Homo sapiens: one gene and its partners. The protein of the gene in region 1 purifies or fractionates together with the protein of each later gene. This does not show direct contact. Each region holds a gene or a part of one and is shown on either strand. Other genes may lie near its edges. The genes, in order: AAAS, NDC1 and ANKRD22.

The links.
Region 2: the proteins of AAAS (region 1) and NDC1 purify together in Homo sapiens (affinity purification with mass spectrometry; one large-scale study listed by BioGRID and IntAct). This does not show direct contact.
Region 3: the proteins of AAAS (region 1) and ANKRD22 purify together in Homo sapiens (co-immunoprecipitation; one large-scale study listed by IntAct). This does not show direct contact.

Annotation. Positions count from the first base shown.
Region 1 is NC_000012.12:53,309,172-53,311,654, reverse strand, and holds part of AAAS (aladin), read left to right. Parts: intron 1-1,933; coding exon 1,934-2,054; intron 2,055-2,373; coding exon 2,374-2,483. UniProt on the Homo sapiens protein: Plays a role in the normal development of the peripheral and central nervous system.
Region 2 is NC_000001.11:53,793,196-53,796,853, forward strand, and holds part of NDC1 (nucleoporin NDC1), read right to left. Parts: intron 3,610-3,658; coding exon 3,494-3,609; intron 85-3,493; coding exon 34-84; intron 1-33. UniProt on the Homo sapiens protein: Component of the nuclear pore complex (NPC), which plays a key role in de novo assembly and insertion of NPC in the nuclear envelope.
Region 3 is NC_000010.11:88,820,799-88,824,456, forward strand, and holds part of ANKRD22 (ankyrin repeat domain-containing protein 22), read right to left. Parts: intron 2,581-3,658; coding exon 2,482-2,580; intron 2,221-2,481; coding exon 2,143-2,220; 3' UTR 1-2,142.

The DNA of each region.
Region 1 (2,483 bases):
GCATGAGCCGCTGCAACTGGCCTGTTTTTTGGTTTTTTTAGAGATGGGGTTTCATTATGTTGCCCAGGCTGGAATACAGTGGCTATTCACAGACTCAATCATTGCACACTACAGCCTTGAACACCTGGGCTCAAGTGAGCCCCTTGCCAAGTAGCTGGGACTATAGGTGCGTACACCACGCCTGGAAGGTTGTTGGTTTTTTTTGTTTCTACTAAAAATACAAAAATTAGCTGGGTGTGGTGGCGTGCGCCTATAATCCCAGCTACTCAGGAGGCTGAGGCAGGAGAATTCACTTGAACCCAGGAGGTGGACGTTTCAGTGAGCTGAGATAATGCCATTGTACTCTAGCCTGGGTGACAAGAGCGGAACTCGATTTAAAAAAATTTTTTTAAATAAATGAACAAAAAACAAGGCCAGGCGTGATGGCTCATGCGTGTAATTCCAGCACTTTCGGAGGCTGAGGCAGATGGATCGCTTGAGCCTAGGAGTTTGAGACTAGCTTGGTCAACATAGATGCTGTCTATACAAAAAATAAAAATAAAAAAACTAGCTGGGCGTGGGGTGTACGCCTGTAGTCCTAGCTACTTTAGAGGCTGAGGCAGGAGCCTCAGGACTTTGAGGCTGCAGTGTGCTATGACTGTGTCACTGCACTCCATCCTGGAGTGTGAACCACCATGCCTGGCCCAGGAAATATTTTTTACAGCATTATGTATAATAAAAAATTACAAACAAGTCAAATGTCCATTTGTAGAGGCATGACTCAATAAATTATAGTTCATCTATTGAGTGGTATACAATGGAGCCACTGAAAAGAATGAGATGAATCTGAACCCACCTGCAAAGGCAGCTGTGATTTATCATAAAGTTCAAGAGAATTAAATTGTACATCCATGACTAAGACTTCACTGGAGCTGAAGGTGGTTATAGTTAGGTGGAAAGAGAGGTGGCATTAATTCAGGTAGTAGCCTTCGTCTGTCAGGCCAGGCACATGGCTCTGGAAATACACAGCTGCAGACACATGGCAGGTGCCCTCAGGTAGTTCCCTGCTGGTGATGGAGGCCGAGCCACATGCTGCATCTTTTTTTTTTTTTTTTTTGAGACGGAGTCTCGCTCTGTCGCCAGGCTGGAGTGCAGTGGTGCAATCTCGGCTCACTGCAACCTCCGCCTCCCGGGTTCAAGCAATTCTCCTGCCTCAGCCTCCCAAGTAGCTGGGACTACAGGCGAACACCACCACGCCCAGCTAATTTTTTTGTACTTTTAGTAGAGACGGGGTTTCACCATGTTGGCCAGAATGGTCTCGATCTCTTGACCTCGTGATCCGCCCACCTCGGCCTCCCAAAGTGCTGGGATTACAGGCGTGAGCCACTGCGCCCAGCCTGCAGCATCTTTATGATAAGGAGCAAACGCGGGAGCTGCAGAGTTGGGAGGTACTTTGATAAGGCAAGGCAGGAGGGCTGTTTGGGAGCACAGGATGTGTTCTGAGGAGTGTTAGATAACTGGAGAGAAAAGGTTGGAACCTTGAAGTAATGTCATAGATTATTAATCCTGGATAGATGGATGGCCAGGCTGGATGGCCTGTGGGCAGAGAGCTGTGTTCTGGGGTAGGGCCTGATATCGCCCCAGGGGCAGTACCTTCTAGGTTACTGGTTAGGTTTTGCCTCATGGCCTATCTCGTGAAAGCACTCTTTCACCCTGGCCTGAGACCTTGCAGATTACCTCTTCTCTGTTGACCTGCTCGTGGTGACTTGGTCGTTTTTCCCCTTCGCTGTTTTTTTCTTTTAACTTTCACAATCCTTATTCCTTTTTCACAACCTGGATTTGAGCCCAGAGTGGGCCATCAGGATAGGAGGTTTTAGCAGGAGGCAAAGAAATAGAATTTTGGGGATGGCTTCTTGTCATCTTCTGACTCCACATCCTCTGTGTTCCCCTCCAGACCCTCTTCTGGCTGTGCCCAAGTGCTGTCTCACCCTGGGCATACACCTGTTACCAGCTTGGCCTGGGCCCCCAGTGGGGGGCGGCTGCTCTCAGCTTCACCCGTGGATGCTGCTATCCGGGTGAGTGGGTCCCTGCCCCTCATGCACATTTCAGTCCTGGCAAAAGTGTTCCTCACTCGGTTGTGGAAACATCTTGGGGGAAGGAGGAGGGACCTTGGTCCATTCAGTCTTAAACTTACCCAGAGAGGAGCTTTGCCATCAGACTCGTGAGGTTTAAAATTCCGCTGTCTGTAATTGTCAGCATGAACCCGTGCCTCATGTTTCACAGTCCCTCTCCCGCTTCCTCTCGTTTCTGGCTCTTTGTACATTAGAGAGGCCAGCCCACTGTGAGATGATGGGGTGCTTGAGTTTTCCCTTATCTCCTGCCCCACTCTCCTAGGTATGGGATGTCTCAACAGAGACCTGTGTCCCCCTTCCCTGGTTCCGAGGAGGTGGGGTGACCAACCTGCTCTGGTCCCCAGACGGCAGCAAAATCCTGGCTACCACTCC
Region 2 (3,658 bases), on another chromosome or scaffold:
CCCATTCCCAACGCTATAACCACATATTCTTACCTTACTGAAAAAATACATTATCAGCACCCGTTTTGACAAGAAATTCTTAATCTGAGTTGGAAAAAAGGAAGAATTAACACATTTACCTTTTAAATTCTATTCAAATATAACACATTTCCTAGTTCTTCCAGACAGTAACTTAAATGAAAAAATGAAACACTTCACATCTTGTGGGCAAAGAATAATAATACTTAAACAATACGCCATGTAACTAAATACCTTTGTGCTACAAATTGGACAACCAAGATGAGCCAACTAAACTGTATTCCCATGTATACACGTTTAACCCCCAAATTAGAGCCCTGACATAAAAAAAAATTAATTAATTCTAAGTGGTTTTGGTGAAATTTTTTTCTTTTTTCTTTTTTCTTTTTTATTTCAGAAACAGGGTCTCGCTTTGTCACCTAGGCTGGAGTGCAGTTTTATGATCACAGCTTACTGCCACCTCAAATTTCTGGGCTCAACAGATCCTCCCACCTCAGCCTCCTGGGTAGCTGGGAATACAGGCACACCACCATGTCCGGTTAATTTTTAAATGTTTTTGTACAGACAGGGTCTCACCATCTTGCCCAGGCTGGTCTCAAACTCCTGGACTCAAGCAATCCTCTCACCTCAGCCTCCCAAAGTGCTAGGATTACAGACTGGAGATATTTTTCAAGGCCACATTATTTCTCGATTCTCTATAACTGTCCTGCCCTTTAACCTTTTAATACCCAAAAAAAGAGTATGTTTCTCTCACAGGGAAAAAAAAATCTTTTTTTTTTTGAGACAGGGTCTCACTCTATCACCCATGCTGGAGTGCAGTGGCACATTCATAGCTCACTGCAACCTCTGCTTTCTGGGCTCAGGTGATTCTCCTACCTCAGCCTCCCAAGTAGCTAGGACTACAGGAATGCACCACCACACCCAGCTAATTTTTGTATTTTTAGTAGAGATGGGGTTTTGCCATGTTGCCCATGCTGGTCTCGAATTCCCGGGCTCAAGCAATGTTCCCACTGTGGCATCCCAAAGTGCTGAGATTACAGGAAAAAAAATATCTTAAGACACAAAGTAGTTTTCTACTAGTTGACAATTCCGGGGGAAAAAGTGTTCTTAGTATCAGCTAAAAGCTAACCCAACTAACTTAAAAGTGAATCTGCTCCTACCATACTCTCACCCAAAGCTGCATGACTAGTCAGAAGGCTGCAGCAAGCAGCACGTGTCTGGTTGGGTAGAAAGTGACACGGCAGTACTAATGGCATATAGAGCCGTATGGGATCCCGAAGTTTATGAAATGCCTTTAACCATTCATTCCCTATTAATCAGTCATTCCATCAGCAAACATGTTATAATTTCTCCCATCTTAAAAAATAAAAACATGACTGGGCGTGGTGGCTCGCGCCTGTAATTCCAACACTTTATGAGGCTCAGGCAGGATGACTGCTTGAGGCCAAGAGTTTGAGATCAGCCTGGGCAACATAGAGACTGTGTCTCTACAAAAAATAAAAATTAAAAAAATTAGGCAGGCATGGTGGCAGGCACCTGTAGTCCCAGCTACTCAGGAGGCTGAGGTGGGAGGATCACTTGAGCCCGGGAGTTCAAGGCTGCAGTGTAGCCATGATCATACCACTGCACTCCAGCCTGAGCAACAGACAGACCAAGAACCCATCTCAAAATTTTTAAAAAAGTTCCTTGACCCCTCAATTCCTCCCAGCTATTGCCCCATTTTTCTGTTCCACTTACAACAAATTCCTTGAAAAATGTGGTTTTTCTTGTGGTCTCCAATTCGTCTACCAATCTCTCCTGAACTCATGCATTTTTTTGTCCCCACTACTCCAGCCAACAGCTCTTGTCAAGGACTCAGTGACCTCCGCATTTCTAGCTCAACAGTTAATTCTTAGTTCCCGCCCCATGCTACCCATCAGCAGCATCTGACACTCCCACCTTCTCCTCCTTGAAACTCTTTCTTTTCTTGGATTTCTACCCACCTCAGTCTCTGTTGCTATTCTTTATCTCCCAAACTTTTAGCCATTGGAGGGCCCCTTTCTTGGATATCTCTTTTCTTCTGTATTTACATTCAAGAGTTTGCATCGAGTCTCATGCTTTGAATACTATCTATACTCTGAAAACTTCCAAAGTTACATTTCTAGCCCAGAACTTTCCCCTACACTACCGCTATATGCCTAATTTCTTACTAAGTATTTTCACCTGGTTGTCTCATAGGTATCTCAAAATTGGCTTGTCCAAAATCAAACTCCTGATTTCCCTCCCCTCACCTCTATCAAATCTCCTTCTCCAGAATCATCAGTAAATTCCAACTCAATAAATTGCAACTATATTATTCCAGATCTTCAGGCCAAAAACCTTACCAGTGAACACTGACTCTTTCTAGTATACACCACAACCAAACCATAAGCTAATCCTATTCCATCTAACTTAAAATACATACCTAGACCTTGACCACATCTTACAGCCCCCACCACTACCACTCTGGTCCCAGATACCACCATCTCCCACTAGATTACTTAACACCTTAACACCGTCTCTGGGCTTACATGCCTACCTTGCAAGAGTTTAGTCCCAACACAGCCCCTAGAGCAGCACTTTCAAAATATAAGTTACATCATATCATTCTTGTGGGCAAGACCATACGGTGACTTTCCATCCCACTCAGAGATGAAGCCAGTCTTTACTACAGCCAATGAGCCCTGGGTGCCTGCTACCTTTCTGATCTTATCACCCACTTACCACTCTCCCCTCACTCACTCTGCTCCAGCCACACTGGTATCCACATTGTTCTTCACACAAGCCAAGGCCATTCCCATCTCAGATGCACTGGGCTGCTCCCAGCTCTCCCTTCAGGTCTCTGATCAATCATTGCCTTATCAATGAGACTTCCCCTTATCACTCCACATAAAATGATACCCTCTCCCTTAGGAACTCTCTGTCTTCCTTGCTCTGTTTTTCTAGTTAAGACTTATATCAAATTTCTTCCTTCTTATGCATGTTTTCCATATCTTGAATATGACCTGTTGAGATGCATCTTACAGTCAATAGCACGTCATGGGTTAAGGCATCTTTTTTCTTAATAGCACATAAGTCTTATAATTAATGATATTTTATATTTCAGAGAAACAGAATATAATACATTTGCTTACTCACTGATTTCCCCTCACTCGAATGTAAATATTACATGGGCAAGGACTCTGTTTTGTTTGCTTTTTTCCCAGTGCCTAAAAGCACACCTTGGATATATAAAGAACTCAAATATTTCTTACATGAAGTTATCAGGTCAAGTCATATGAAATTACAATGTGTATAGCTCAAACCAGTCAAATATTGGCTGTTTCATTTGAGTCAATACACGAAGCATAAAAAAAAAAAAAAAAAAGCTTCTTATTCCTGATGACTTACTCATGTGAGATCCTTAATGTTCTCAATTTTACATGCAAATATAAATCCTATAACCATATCATCCTACCTGTTCACGTTTATTCTGAATCCATGAATAAATCACACTGGGTTGTCTCATTGTCTTACCCTCAGCACTAATAGAGGTAGATGGAGAAGGATTAGAAAATTCAGTCATTTGCTGATCTATTTTTAAAAAAGAAAAGGCAAGATAAGAACTTAGGCTGTCTGATCC
Region 3 (3,658 bases), on another chromosome or scaffold:
TGTTTTTTCTATAAGCCATATTTTTGGAGCACTAAAGTAAAATGGCAAATTGGGACAGATATTGAGGTCTGGAGTCTGTGGATTATTGTTGACTTTGACAAAATAAGCTAGACATTTTCACCTTGTTGCCACAGAGACATAACACTACCTCAGGAAGCTGAGCTGCTTTAAGGACAACAACAACAAAATCAGTGTTACAGTATGGATGAAATCTATGTTAAGCATTCTCAGAATAAGGCCAAGTTTTATAGTTGCATCTCAGGGAAGAAAATTTTATAGGATGTTTATGAGTTCTCCAATAAATGCATTCTGCATTACATAAAGCATGTATGTGCATTTCAGTGTCTAGATTCTAGTCCAAGCTTGTTGGAAGGTTTACAGCTTGTTGCTAGGAGACCTAATGACTAAAAATTTCTGGCTCAATTTTCTGCCTCCAAAAATTAAAAGCTAGGGAGAAAATTGCATAATGTCATGAGCATGATGAAACAAATTGTCATATACTTTATCCTTTAATCTTGACAAAGTTAATGTCAGACAGTCTCTGCAACTCATTGACAAACCATGATTTATTTCTTCAGAAAATTATTCCACTTTTACACAATTTCAAAGATGACAGTTGTAAATTACATTGGTACTATTTTGCAAAATCTCTGAAACCAAATCAAAGGTTTGTGTGTGTCAAAAGTATATTGTTGAAGGTATACTGGTGTGTGAAATTCACTTGTGTGGGTTTTTTGTCCCCAAGGGTCACCTGGTAGCTCAGCTCAATGCCAGTGAATCTTAATTTATTAAGACACGTTTAAAGACTTCAGAATCTATATCTACACACTATTACTTCCTTCATAAAATAAGTTTCTTAAATCCTGTACACAGTTGAATATATATTGCTGGATTTGATTTTCATTAGAGCTTTCAAGGATGGTAAATCTTTCATTCTTATACTGTACTTGTTACCACATACAAAGAGGCTGGCTTAGTTCCTGTCTGCAGCTATGTGAGATTCAGTCTTGATTTTCAAAATTCAGTCATATTTTTAAAGTGAATTTATTTCTACTCTGTGTCATTCACAGAAGAAGTGAGACAGATATTTTGATATTCGCAATCTCTCACTTAGACAAATAATCCAGATCCTACCTCATTGTATAGCTCTGTTTCTTTTGAAGAACTTTATCCAAATAAGTTACAATAATATTTTACATCTATCAATAAAATAAACAAAACTAACAAGCTTGGCAACCACCTTGTATTTACAAAAGGATCATGAAGATTTTTTTAAACGAACATTTTCATAGTTGCATAGTCTTGCTCAAACCAAGATGGCTTTTATTTGTAAACCGAAATCTCTAGTGGTATGCTGGTAAACGAACTTTATGGAAAGTAAAAAACAAAAAAACAAAAACAAACTCTGATTTGTCAATTTGCCAATTTCTGTGGTGTAAACACACTCACCGCTGACACTTGATAGATGTTTTTATTGAAATTCCTTCACCAAAGGAATATTTACTTGTGAATCTCTAAGCCCACACACATACACAAATACCATTCTGTACAAACATACGTATTTAATAATTTGATTCTTCTGCTCAATACTCAAAGGGGGCTGGGAGGAACAGTTTGTCTCCTAGGGCATGACATAGACTGGACAGTCTTTTTATAAGAGTGATACAACTGGGAAGGGAGAACGCTGTTTCAGAAGATAACTCAGATCCTCTTCTTCAGGAAAGACTGAGTTTGGAACACCAGGGCTTTTTTTTTTTTTTTTTTTTTTGAGACAGGGTCTCGCTGTGTTGCCCTGGCTGCTCTCAAACTCCTGAGTTCAAGTGATCCTCCCACCTCAGCCTCCCAAGTAGCTGGGATTACAGGCATGTACCACTGTGCCTAGCTGAAACATCAGTTTCTGACTGAAGTGGAGACTACAACAACTTTAGTGTTTCCCTTAGAAGGATTACGGCCATGGTGAACTTGACTGAGTAAACAATGCTATAAATAAAAAGCTCTTCCAAAACATTAACCATGGTAAGCATCATTATCCCCATAAAATGGTGGCATCCAGGTTAAATGGCCCACAGACCAAAAGTCTAAAATGAAGATAGAATCCAGTCGTTAACTTTTTCTGTATCTCCATCGGTGTGGTCACAAGGATTACAATGCTTTCCTTAGCATTAATTCAATCTGGGAAAATTTTAATCTCCGTGCAATATCCAGTGAGCTCTCACCATGCTGAGGGGGGAAAAATATACAGTTATTTCCAATAGAGTGCCCAAGATCTCGTACGTAGCTTAGACCAATTGACTCTCTGTGTTGGCAAGGGCTTTAAAAGGCAATCAGTCCTAATAGTAATAGGATAACTTCATTCCTTAATGAGGATGATTAATTTTACTGTTGTTTACGTCAGAGGCAAATAATTTACTTCAACATAAGGCCTAGATTAGAAGATGCTGCTGCTAGAGGAACCTCAGACCACGGTCCACCCTCCCTTACCTTATTCTTTATTGTGGGGTCTGCACGGGCTTCCAAGAGCAGAGGGATAAGAGACTGGTTTTTCATTTCACAGGCATAATGTAATGCGGTACAGCCATACTGAAACACAAAGGGCCAAAACTTCAGCTCATAAGTCGGGCCCTCCACAGACCATAGCATGTGGCTTCATTGGCAAATCCTTTTCACACTTTGTAGTATACAACTAAGCAGAAAAATAGTCTGCAAACCATTGATAGACAACTATTTCTAGTACTTAAAAAATTTTTCGCCGGGCGCGGTGGCTCACGCCTGTAATCCCAGCACTTTGGGAGGCCGAGGCGGGCGGATCACGAGGTCAGAGGATCGAGACCGTCCTGGCTAACACGGTGAAACCCTGTCTCTACTAAAAGATACAAAAAATTAGCCGGGCGCGGTGGCGGGTGCCTGTAGTCCCAGCTACTCCGGAGGCTGAGGCAGGAGAATGGCTCGAACCCGGGAGGCGGAGCTTGCAGTGAGCCGAGATTGCGCCACTGCGCTCCAGCCTGGGCGACAGAGCGAGACTCCGTCTCAAAAAAAAAAAAAAAAAAATTTCTTCTCTGTCTCAATGTATATGTATGTTAGTGTCATATAAGCCATCAATCTCTGCCTTTTTGTTTTCCATTTTCTGTTCTAAAGAATGCAACTTAAAAAAGCTGATGCTGAATTGTGCCAAAGTTTCTTTGTCGCATGCTATATGCCTCGGTGATCATCACCTTGATCATGTCACCATCTTTCCCTTAAAGAGTCTCCACATGGCCCTTTACATAAACATTATCCTCTATGGTTTTGGTGATGATTCCTACTGAAGAAGTCGGGTGCTCTTGCTGCAGGACACCTGCAAGATCAGTGCAGTTCTACAGAGACATTTCCCAAACGTGATTTGTTATAGCTTATATTATGTGTTATAAGCTAGTGCATCTACTCTGTTGGTACTAATTTAAAACACTACAGGTCAAAAAAATTATAGCTAGGGCATTAGTGTCCAAAATTTGGCCTTTGGAAAAGTAGCCAAGCAACCATGGTGCTGGTGAGTGAAGAAATAGTACCTTTGGCTATCAAGACAGGTTTAGCTCTGGATCCCATTCCCTAGAAACACCTCTAAAATTATAGGAGATCATGTTGCAATTATTTATTTTTATTAAGTGGTGGCATGACAAAT